Homo sapiens: one gene and its partners. The protein of the gene in region 3 interacts with the protein of the main gene of each other region in a pairwise test. Each region holds a gene or a part of one and is shown on either strand. Other genes may lie near its edges.

Evidence for each region. The genes of interacting proteins can lie anywhere in the genome.
Region 1: the proteins of C11orf65 (region 3) and CALM3 interact in binary tests that used the Homo sapiens proteins (3 or more experiments, as listed by UniProt).
Region 2: the proteins of C11orf65 (region 3) and AHCYL1 interact in binary tests that used the Homo sapiens proteins (3 or more experiments, as listed by UniProt).

Annotation. Positions count from the first base shown.
Region 1 is NC_000019.10:46,607,806-46,611,282, reverse strand, and holds the end of CALM3 (calmodulin-3), read right to left. Parts: intron 3,460-3,477; exon of another isoform or gene 3,087-3,459; coding exon 2,943-3,086; exon of another isoform or gene 2,802-2,942; coding exon 2,695-2,801; exon of another isoform or gene 2,438-2,694; coding exon 2,302-2,437; exon of another isoform or gene 2,278-2,301; intron 2,186-2,277; exon of another isoform or gene 2,159-2,185; coding exon 2,130-2,158; 3' UTR 501-2,129; downstream 1-500. UniProt on the Homo sapiens protein: Calmodulin acts as part of a calcium signal transduction pathway by mediating the control of a large number of enzymes, ion channels, aquaporins and other proteins through calcium-binding. Calcium-binding is required for the activation of calmodulin.
Region 2 is NC_000001.11:109,991,265-109,994,764, forward strand, and holds part of AHCYL1 (S-adenosylhomocysteine hydrolase-like protein 1), read left to right. Parts: intron 1-3,500. UniProt on the Homo sapiens protein: Multifaceted cellular regulator which coordinates several essential cellular functions including regulation of epithelial HCO3(-) and fluid secretion, mRNA processing and DNA replication.
Region 3 is NC_000011.10:108,391,030-108,394,529, forward strand, and holds part of C11orf65 (protein MFI), read right to left. Parts: intron 2,350-3,500; coding exon 2,179-2,349; intron 1-2,178. UniProt on the Homo sapiens protein: Acts as an inhibitor of mitochondrial fission. Interacts with MFF and prevents DNM1L recruitment to mitochondria, promoting a more fused mitochondrial network.

The DNA of each region.
Region 1 (3,477 bases), on a different chromosome or scaffold from region 3:
GCTCGGGGCTCTCACCCAGTCTCGCTGGATTTCCTTCAGTTCCTTGATGTCTGGGCTTCTCTTGCCTCAGGGCTTCCATACATGTCGTCCCCCCGAACTGGAATGCCCTTCCGTCCTTCCCCTACCCGGCTAGGGGACTGCCCATCTTTCAGGTAGGTCTCAGCTCAGTCCTGCCACCTGACTGGGCTGACCCCTTCTCTGTGTGCTCCCATGGCATGATGGGCCTGCCTCAGAGGAGCCTTCTCAGTCCCCGCCTTTCAGTCCATTTGTGCGACTATCTCTAGGACAGGACCCTGCCGTTGATGACCCTGCGATCTAGCTGGGATCAGAACTGTGGTTCAGAGGCGTCCACTGGGCTGCACTGACTGGACACAGCTTCAGAGCCAGCTTTGAGGAGAGGCTCTTCCACCTCTGGGCCAAAGGAGTCAGTGCTGGGGTTGGTGTGTATGTGTGTTGGAGGGGGGCAGGCCAGAAACTGAGACAGGAGGAGAGGAGCCAAATCAGGTAGTCACTGTATTTTATTGGAAAACATTGATATATATTTTTCTTCACAGCTTGAACTGAACACAATATTGCCCGGTTTAAAAAAAACAAAACCAAAACATTCCGAAAATGTCCACAGCCTCACGCCTACCTGCCCTTACCCTCAGCTCTTGGCTGGGTCTCCCACTATGCCCCATCCCTCCTTCCCTCAGAGGCTGGGTGCCAGAGGGTGGATGAGAAGAGATTCTCAAAGCTGGGCAGGTCCCAGGAAAAGCCACTTGATCGACCTGGGCAGTGAGGGGAAGCAGGGGGTGGGGGGTGGGGTGGGGAGGTGGTGGGGGGAGCCAGATGAAATGAACAGAAAAGGGGAAAAAACCCAGACGACTGAACTGCCCACATTGACTTACTTGTCCCAGAGGCGAAAGTCAGAAGCAAGGGCACGGATCATGCTCTCCGCTGGGGGAGTATGGGGGCAGGCAGGTGGGCGAGGGAAGAGGCAGGGAAGAGGGCACGGAGCACAGATGTGAGGAAGCGGCGCCAAGTCACCACGGAGAAGCGGGAGGTGCTGGCGGACCAGGACGCAGAGGCTGCTGTAGCTGCCGTCCCCTGGGCAGCTGGCCGACAAGACTGTTTTATTGCAGGTGCGTTCTCTTGAGAGCGTGGTGGGGCCCATCTTCCCTCTCCCCACCCTTTAGCTAGCCCAGCATGGTTCTGAACAAAATGAAAGTCTTAAGGGCCATAGAGGGGAAAGAAAAAAAAAGAGAACCAGCACATTACAAAGCGACCATCCCCACATCCATTCCTAGGACGGGCCCTCAGGGCGGTGGGTGCATCGTGAGGAGGGAGCGGCATGGGATGTTAGCACCAGGTATTTACAGAACAGCTCGAGAGCGCTTCAGGAACGCGGGCAAGTCCAATTTGCAGAGTGGCCAAATGAGCAGTCCCCACCCAGCCAAACCTCAGAAAGCCAATCAGATGGTTTCAGAACAGCAGCCAGTGGGATGTGAGTGTTGCCCACTGTCAGTCCCCTTCTGTGAGTTGGCCCCCTCGACCCCCTCCTGGGCCACATCCAGTCAACGCCACAATTCCTCAACGCCCCCTCAGTCCTTCTGGAATGCCTCTCTTGGCACCCCTGCCCCAACAGGCTGCTGGGATCTGCACGTGGAATCACAGGGCTGGTTGCATGCAACGGCAAAGGGCATGCTCTTCTGCCTGGGGGAGGGCCTCTTGTCCCTCCCAGCAGGTCCCGGGACAGGGCTGGCAGCCACCCCAGCACCCAAAATAAGATGACAAACAAGAGGAAACAAACCAAAATGGAGGAGAGCCATCCGGGCTGGAGGAGGGCAGAGGCTCCCCAAGGGGATCTGGGGAGGGCTTCAACTTATGAATGCATCAGGCCTTGGAAGACATGGATGGAAGAGGCGAGGGCAAAAGGAAGAGATGAGGGGCATGGAGAGAGACTCAGGGAAGAAGGAGAAAGAGCAATCATGCAGCTTGGGACAAATCTTTTGTTGCTTTATCAGATTCTCAGTCAATCAATTGGTGTTTGCTAGAACCGGGGTACGCAGGGGAGTGTTGAAGAGAGAGTGCGCGCGCGAGAAGAGAGAGATCAAGAGAACGGGCATCGCCAGCTGCCCGGGGGGCCTTCACTTTGCAGTCATCATCTGTACAAACTCTGTGGAGTGAAGCAGAGAGAGAGGAGGTCAGGCGGGCAGGCTAAGTGGCGAGCGGCCCTCCCCAACAAGAGGGATCTGGGGGCTTGTTCCTGAAGCTGCGATTCTCTTCTTGTTCCAGAGATCAAGCCTGGCCTTGACTCACCTTCATAATTGACCTGGCCATCTCCATCGATGTCAGCCTCCCTGATCATCTCATCCACCTCCTCATCGGTCAGCTTCTCCCCCAGGTTCGTCATTACGTGACGCAGCTCTGCGGCGCTGATGTAGCCATTCCCATCCTGGGGGTTGGGGATAAAGCCTTTCACTGGGCACTTCTCCCGGTGGGGAGAGAGGCAGTGAGAGGGGTGGCTGTCATCACCATCCCTCAGCAGTGAGCACAGTGAGGGAGGCTGCCTGAGGTGGCAGAGCAGGTTGGCAATGAGGCTGGCACCGGGACCCGGACCTCCTGGAAGTGGTAGCTCCGTGGCTCCAGTTCCGCCTGTCTGCCTGAAGGCTGGCGTCAGTCTCAGAGCCGCCCCTGGAGAGGGCTGCTTACCTTGTCAAAGACACGGAACGCCTCTCGGATCTCCTCCTCACTGTCTGTGTCCTTCATCTTTCTGGCCATCATGGTCAGGAACTCCGGGAAGTCAATGGTCCCGTTCCCTGGAAGGTGGGGAAAGGATGGAGAATGCTCTTGGCCTGGGCCCTGAGAGACACGGGCTCATCCATCACCCTGAGAGAGGCTCCCTGCAGTCACTCGGGGTGACCAGGAGCAGGGCTGCCCACGCGCTCTGTGGGGCTCACCATCTGCATCCACCTCATTGATCATATCCTGCAGCTCTGCTTCAGTGGGGTTCTGTCCCAGGGATCTCATCACTGTCCCCAACTCCTTGGTGGTGATAGTGCCATCTCCATCCTTGTCAAAGAGGGAGAAGGCCTCCTTGAACTCTGGGGGAAGAAGGGGGAGGAGTCAGAGGTCACAAGGTCCACAGGAGAATCCTTACCTCTGGATGCTGGATGCCTTCCCTGGAGGAAGGCCAAGGGCATCAGTCCCACCTAAAGAAACTGAGACAGACTTCAAGTCCCACGCAACCAGCTCTCTCTCCTCAGTGCTCAGGGCAAAGCCCTTCCAACCTTCATTCAACAGTTATTGAACATCAACACTGTGCTAGGTGAAGCTATTTTTCTGGCCAGCCAGTGAAGACAGTGGGGAAAATGGTCTGACAGCTGTCCTTAGATGATTCTACATTTCTGTTTGGTCCCTGGCTTTGACTTCTCCCTTGAAATGATGAAATGAACCAAAGTCATGGAGTGAATGAGAGCCGAAAGGATTCTTTGT
Region 2 (3,500 bases), on a different chromosome or scaffold from region 3:
GTATTTGGAAATCTGGGGTAGAGATTGGAAAAGTACTTTTGAGAACCACAGGTACAAGACTCTCCAAGCATGCTCCTGCTTCTTACCATAAAAGCCCCAACGCCTCCGCTGATGTGCCTGTGTACTTAACCTGTGGGGCTTAATGGGCTTAACATGTTCTTCTCTACCAGCCCAAGCCAGTTCACTTGTTTTAAAGTGGACAGCCTGTACTCAGTTGTGTGATGGAAATGGGGCATATTAAACAGGAGGGGTCTGGGACTGCTCTCTGTTCCATGCTGTTCATCTTGGACCTGCCTCAGGCTTACTTCTTCACAATTTGAGGAACTGCTCAGCAAGAGCACACCCTATTGTTGACATGTTTTTCTTTTCTCTCCGGAACCTGCGAGTGTACGATGGCATTAGTGGAATCCCTCTGAGCCTGTGTGCCAAGGAAAATGCTAATGTGCTGATCCACAATGATGTGTGGCTCAGTGTGAACTACGTAGTAAATTTGTGAGTGACAGAGTAAAGGGGCAAGAGGCTGGAGGAGATGAGTATAACCATCTTTCATTCACTTAGACTTCCTGAATGAAGCCGTTCATACTGAGTTTTGAGCAATGAGAGGATTTTGGAAGTTCTGTTTTTAATAAATGGCTCCAACTCTTCTAGTACTTACTAATTGTATTAAGGTGAACCTTTGGGACATAGGTTTCCATATGCTTAATGGGAAATACTTTGTCCCTTTTCCCCCAAGACTGGCTTGACCTCACGTCAAGACCTCACGTCAAAGCTTTTGGGCCATGACCTGTTTCCTTTGTGGTTCCAGAAATCTGGGGGCGGGGGGAAGAAAAGAGAGAGACCTACCATAAAAGTTAATAGGACAGGCTGGGCCCAGTGGCTCACGCCTGTAATCCCAGCACTTTGGGAGGCCGAGGCAGGAGGATCACAAGGTCAGGAGATCGAGACCATCATGGCCAACATGGTGAAACCCCATCTCTACTAAAAACACAAAAAAAATTAGCTGGGTGTGGCAGCACACACCTGTAGTCCCAGCTACCCGGGAGGCTGAGGCAGGAGAATCGCTTGAACCCAGGAGGTGGAGGTTGCAGTGAGCCAAGATCGCACCACTGTACTCCAGCCTGGCAACAGAGCAAGACTCCGTCTCAAAAAAAAAAAAAAAAAAAAAAGTTAAAGGACAGAGATTCTGATCTGCCCTCTTTGACCAGACCCACCCCTTCTCCTTTCTCAAAGACTTTAAGGAGAAGACTTCAGGTTCTCATGACTGTTAGCTTTATTTTGGGGATGTAGAAAATAGAGATTCACTTTGAATTTTCAAAATGCACATCCCCATCTTTGTTTCTAATTTTAGAAGAGAGGTCAGTAAGTAGACAGATTTGTGTAGAAGATAGAGAATTGGAATATGCTTCTCTTTTGCCTATTTGAGGGAATGCTCTTGAGAATCACTGGATTAGAGACTGTAGAACAATGGTTCTTACTCTTTGAGTCAGAGGTCCTTTTAAGAGTTTAATGAAAATCCTGGTTCTTTCCTCAGGAAAATTCAGGAGCACAAAAATATGCGTATTCTGTTAGAGGATTTATGGGACTTCTGAAACTCATGGATCCTGGGTTTTAAAGTCCTGATGTGGAAGGCCAGGCCTCCAAGCCACAGCATCTCTTTTCATTACAAGTCCACAAACTGCTAAGAGATTTAAGTTTCCAGCCTGCAGTTTGTCCTTATGGCTTGGAACAAAGCTGAGGTTGTTGGCATTGTCAGCTCCCTCTTTGGGATGCTCCTCAGCTTCCCAAAAGACTCATTATAAGTGCCTTGAGAGTTCAGCTCAGGAACTTAACACACATTCGAACCGGCATTTCGGCCACTTTGGGGGAATTTTTGGTATTATCTCAACTCTACTGCTCTTCATATGAAATGCAGATGCCCCTGAAGCTCCAGAGCTGATTCCGTAGGAGTGTTTGAAATAGTAGCTCACATAGTAGATTATCAAAACTAAACAAAATAATTTGCTTCTGTATGTCTCTCAAAAATAGGTTGGATTTCAATGTAGTACTTCTCAAACTATTATATTTTAAGGACTGACCTGATATTTGAATTTTACTCATCATTTGACTTTTCTAGATGGAATATGTTGAGGGCAAAGACCGTATCTCACACATATTTATATAGTACCTGGCACATAATACTGTCAATAAATGCTTATTGAATAAAATAATGTGAGATAATCATTCCTTGGAGAAAGTAAGTTGGACTTATGTGGTGGCTTTGACTCACTTTCCCTTTCAGTTGGCTGGGGTGATTTTTCTAACTTAGAGCCCTCTCACATAGGTATAAGGAAGTACCAAGAACTGCAGGTGAGAAATTGATGAGAATTTCCAACTTAATAGATCCCTTTATAAAGCCAGAAATAGGAGGTCAGGGAGAAGACATCTGAATATATGCCTCCAGCTTCTTAGCCCAGTGGCAGTGGGCATAGGGATATCCTTAGACAATAATGGGGAAGGTAACTTGAATTTCTCACCATTGAAACAACTTTTAAACCCTTAGCATTAGGGAGACTCTGTCCAAAGTTGAAACTGGTATCCTGGTTTATACATGCTCTTGATTTAAAGAACAGGGAGGCTTTCACATAGGGTATTTGAGGTTTGGGGATTAGCGATGAGTTGAATAGTTTGATTTTGGAAAGTACATTGGAACTCTGAAAGTAATAAACAACAGCTCCGTCCGGCAGTGATGAGCAAACTTCTGGTTCTTACTCTGCAACCCTGGCTGCCCCTTCTGAGTCAAAGGCTGAGTTTGATGCTCAAAAGCTATACATGCCCTTCTCTCTTTGAAACACACCTTCTTTAGAATTACAGTCTTCTGGGAACTGGGCCAATGCTTATCCTAGCCAGAAGCTCAGGCTCTAGTTGGCACTACATTTTGTGTGTTCTGTTTCACTTCAAGTGTATAACTTAGGCAAGATTCAGGGGAAAAGGAGACCTTCAGAATTTTGCTATTTTGTGTTGTTTGTTTGTTTGTTTGAGATGGATTTTTGCTCTTGTCGCCCAGGCTGGAGTGTGATGGCACGATCTCGGCTCACTGCAATCTCCACCTCCCGGGTTCAAACAGTTCTCCTGCCTCAGCCTCCCAAGTAGCTGGGATTACAGGCATGTGCCACCACACCTGGCTAAATTTTTTTTGGTGTTTTTTTTGTTTTTGTTTTTGTTTTTAGTAGAGATGGGATTTCATCATGTTGGTTAGGGTGGTCTCGAACTCCTGACCTCAGGTGATCCACCCGCCATGGCCTCCCAAAGTGTTGGGATTACAGGCATGAGCCACTGCACCCGGCAAATTTTGCTATTTTGGAAGTTGAAATAGGTGCTTCCTAGAGATAGCAGATGTATCCAGTTGCTTTGGTAACTAATTCAGTTTCTTATGGGTGGCCAGGTGGTATCCCACTTATTATTCAATACTTGAGGGTTCAGTGCCCAGCTTCTGAGCACCAGCTTTCTTAGCAAGCAAGACA
Region 3 (3,500 bases):
TATCTTTCCTTGCATCATTATTCTCTCCCCTGCTTCCTCTGGCTTCTTTTTTTCATGTTCTATTGTTCAATGACCATTAACTTGATTTTTCCTACCCCATTTTCTTATCTCACTTTTACTGATTTCTTCTGTTTTCTTACATTTCTTTACTTACACTATCTTCATTTAAATTTTTCTGCCTCTTCATGCAGTATCCACATTCTTTATTGTAGTTGAGTAAATATTGAACATTTTAAGCAGCTTTATTGAGGTATATAATTCATATGCCATACAATTCCCCCATTTAAAGTATAGTATCCAGTGGCTTTTAGTATAATATTAGCAGAGTTGTGGCTCCACCACCATAATGAATTTTCTTTTCTTTTTTTTGAGACGGAGTTTCACTCGTTGCCCAGGCTGGAGTGCAATGGCACGATCTCAGCTCACTGCAACCTCCACTTCCCAGATTCAAGTGATTCTCCTGCCTCAGCCTCCTGATAGCTGGGATTACAGGTGCCCGCCACCAGGCCTGACTAATTTTTGTATTTTTAGTAGAGACAGGGTTTCACCATGTTGATCAGGCTGGTCTTGAACTCGGGACCTCAAACAGTCCACCCGCCTTGACCTCCCAAAGAGCTGGGATTACAGGCGTGAGCCACCACGCCTGGCCCACAATGAATTTTCAATTATTTTCATTGCCTCAGAAAGAGACCCTGCACCCCATAGCCACCACCACCCCCTCCCCCCAGTTAATTCTCCACCCCCAGGAAACCACTAATCTATTTTCTGTCTCTATAGGTTTGCCTATTCTGGGTATTTCCTATAAATAAAATAACACATGATCCTTTGTGATTGGCTTCTTTCACTTAGCAGATTCATCAATGTTATGGCATAGATCAGAACTTAATTTCTTTCTTTTTTTTTAAATAGAGGCGCTGTCTCACTATGTTTCCCAGGCTGGTCTCAAATTCCTAGGCTCAAGCAATCCTCCCATCTCTGCCTCCAAAAATGCTGGGATTACAGGCGTGAGCCACTACACTTGGCTTTTTGTGTGTGTGTGTGTGTGTCTCGCTCTGTCACCCAGACTGGAGTACAGTGGTGTGATCATGGCTCACTACAGCATCTACGTCCTGGCTCAAGAGAACCTCTTACCTCAGCCTCCTGAGTAGCTGGGACTACAGTTATGCACCAGCAGGCCTGGGATAATTATTGATTTTTTGTAGAGATGGGGTCTCGCTATGTTGCCCAGACTAGTCTCAAAATCCTGGGCTCAAGTAATCTGCTTGGTCTCCCAAAGTGCTGGGATTACAGGCATGAGCCACCATGCCCAGCCCACTAATTTTTATTGTGGAATAATATTCTATTGGATAGATCTATCATATTTCATTTAGCCATTCGTCAGCTCATGGACATTTGGGGTGTCTTCTGCTTTTTTGCTATTATGATAATGCTGCTATGAACATTTATGCACAGGTTTTTGTGTAGACATGTATTTCCCCTTCTCTTGGGTATATATCTAGGAGTGGAGCTGCTGGATCACATGTCAGCTCTATGTTTAACCACTTGAGGAACTGCCAGATTGTTTTCCAAAGTGGCTGCACCATTGCACATTCCCACTAGCAGTGTATGAGTTCCAATTTCTCCACATTCTTGCAAACACTTGTTATTATCTGTCTTTTTAATTATAGCTATCCTAGTAGGTGTGAAGTGGTATCTCATTATGGTTTTGATTGCATTTCCTTAATGGGGCTACATTAAATATTCTAAAATTTCCCCCACACAAGAAATCTTAAAAATGTTTTCTAAGGGCCATAGTACATCACTGAAAACTTATAACATTTTAGTGTCTCATACAGAAAGGTTAGGGAATATAGATGAAAGAAAACCTTTGTATTATTAATTTCATGCTCTTAGCCTTTTTTCTAAATCCCAAAGTAAGAAGCAAAGCAGACTAAAGCATAAGAATAAAGTCTAAGAATAAAGAGTCCTAAGTCTAATTTTCTGTTTACTATTTTTGGATCATTCATTTTCTTACCCCTCATGTCTTCTTCTGTTCTTTCTAGACAAATAATAGATACTCGGGTTTTTTTTTTCTTTGAAGATTGTTTGTGGCCCCAAGATTCAACAAGGAAATAGGAAATGTTAGAAAAAAACTATGATGACTGCCCTTGTTCCCCAAGAATAGCAACATGTACTTACTCATCAAAGTTCAGTGTATTTGTCCAGTTCAGCACTTCATCCACTTCCCATTCCATCACAGAATCTATCCCCCCATCTTCAAAAGCTCTAATCAGCCCCTTTGTTGCAGTGTGAATTAGTCCTAGAGTTTCATGATGTGTTGACTTAGCCTCCAGACTTCCTGAGTAGTACCTAAATAGGCAAAAGGGAAAGAGAAGTAAATCTTTTGAAATAGGAGATTACAAGTAGATACAGGCAATATATATTGTTGCTATTTACATATTAAAACTATTTGCATATTGAATAAAGTTTTCATTCCTATATAACTCAGATGCATCTAAACCAAGATCTATGTGATGGAATCTTCTGGGGGGAAAAGCAACTTAACCACACTAACTTAAAATCACCCCTCAATAAGTTGCATTTTTATGATACGAAGAAAAACTAAGTTATTAAATTGTTGAATCTTAGAATTATAGAGTGGAAAGGGTCTTAGAAACCAAATAACTAACCTACTCATTTTTATAGGTGAGGAAATAAATCTTTGAGGAGTTAAGTAAATTTTACAAAATCAAGAGGCTAATAGCAGATAAAGAGGGAAGGAAAGTGAAAAAAGGAAAGAGAGGAAGAGGTAAAGGGAAAACAGATACCTTTTCTTTGTGCCAGGTACTTTTCATACAGTCTTATTTAATTCTTTTTAAAAAGACACAGCCAGGCCCAGCGCGGTGGCTCACGCCTATAATCACAGAACTTGGGAGGCCAACATGGGTGGATCACGAAGTCAGGAGTTCGAGACCAGCCTGGCCAACATGGTGAAACCCTGTCTCTACTAAAAATACAAAAATTAGCTGGGCATGGTGGCGGGCCCCTGTAATCCCAGCTACTTGGGAAGCTGAGGCAGGAGAATCGCTAGAACCTGGGAGGTGGAGGTTGCAGCGAGCCGAGATCATGAAACTGCACTCCAGCCTGGGCGACAGAGCAAGACTCCATCTCAAAAAAAAAAAAAAAAAAAAGACACAGCCATTTGTGGCAGCTATTTTTATTCCCCTTTTAGAGATAAAGAAACTGAGACCTGGAGAAGTTAAAATATCATTCAAAGCTGGGCACAGTGGCTCAAGCCTGTAATCCCAACACTTTTGGAGACTGAGTCAGGAAGATCATTTGAGGCCAGGAGTTTGAGGCCAGCCTGGGCAACAGAGAGATCCTCATCTCAATTAATAATTTTAAAAATTTTTAAAGAAATTGTTCAAGATCATGTAGCAGTAAATACTTATGAGAGCCAGTATTCAGACCCTTAGTTTTAAATTCAGCCTCCTTCTGCAGCACTGCCTGTCTTAATCTGA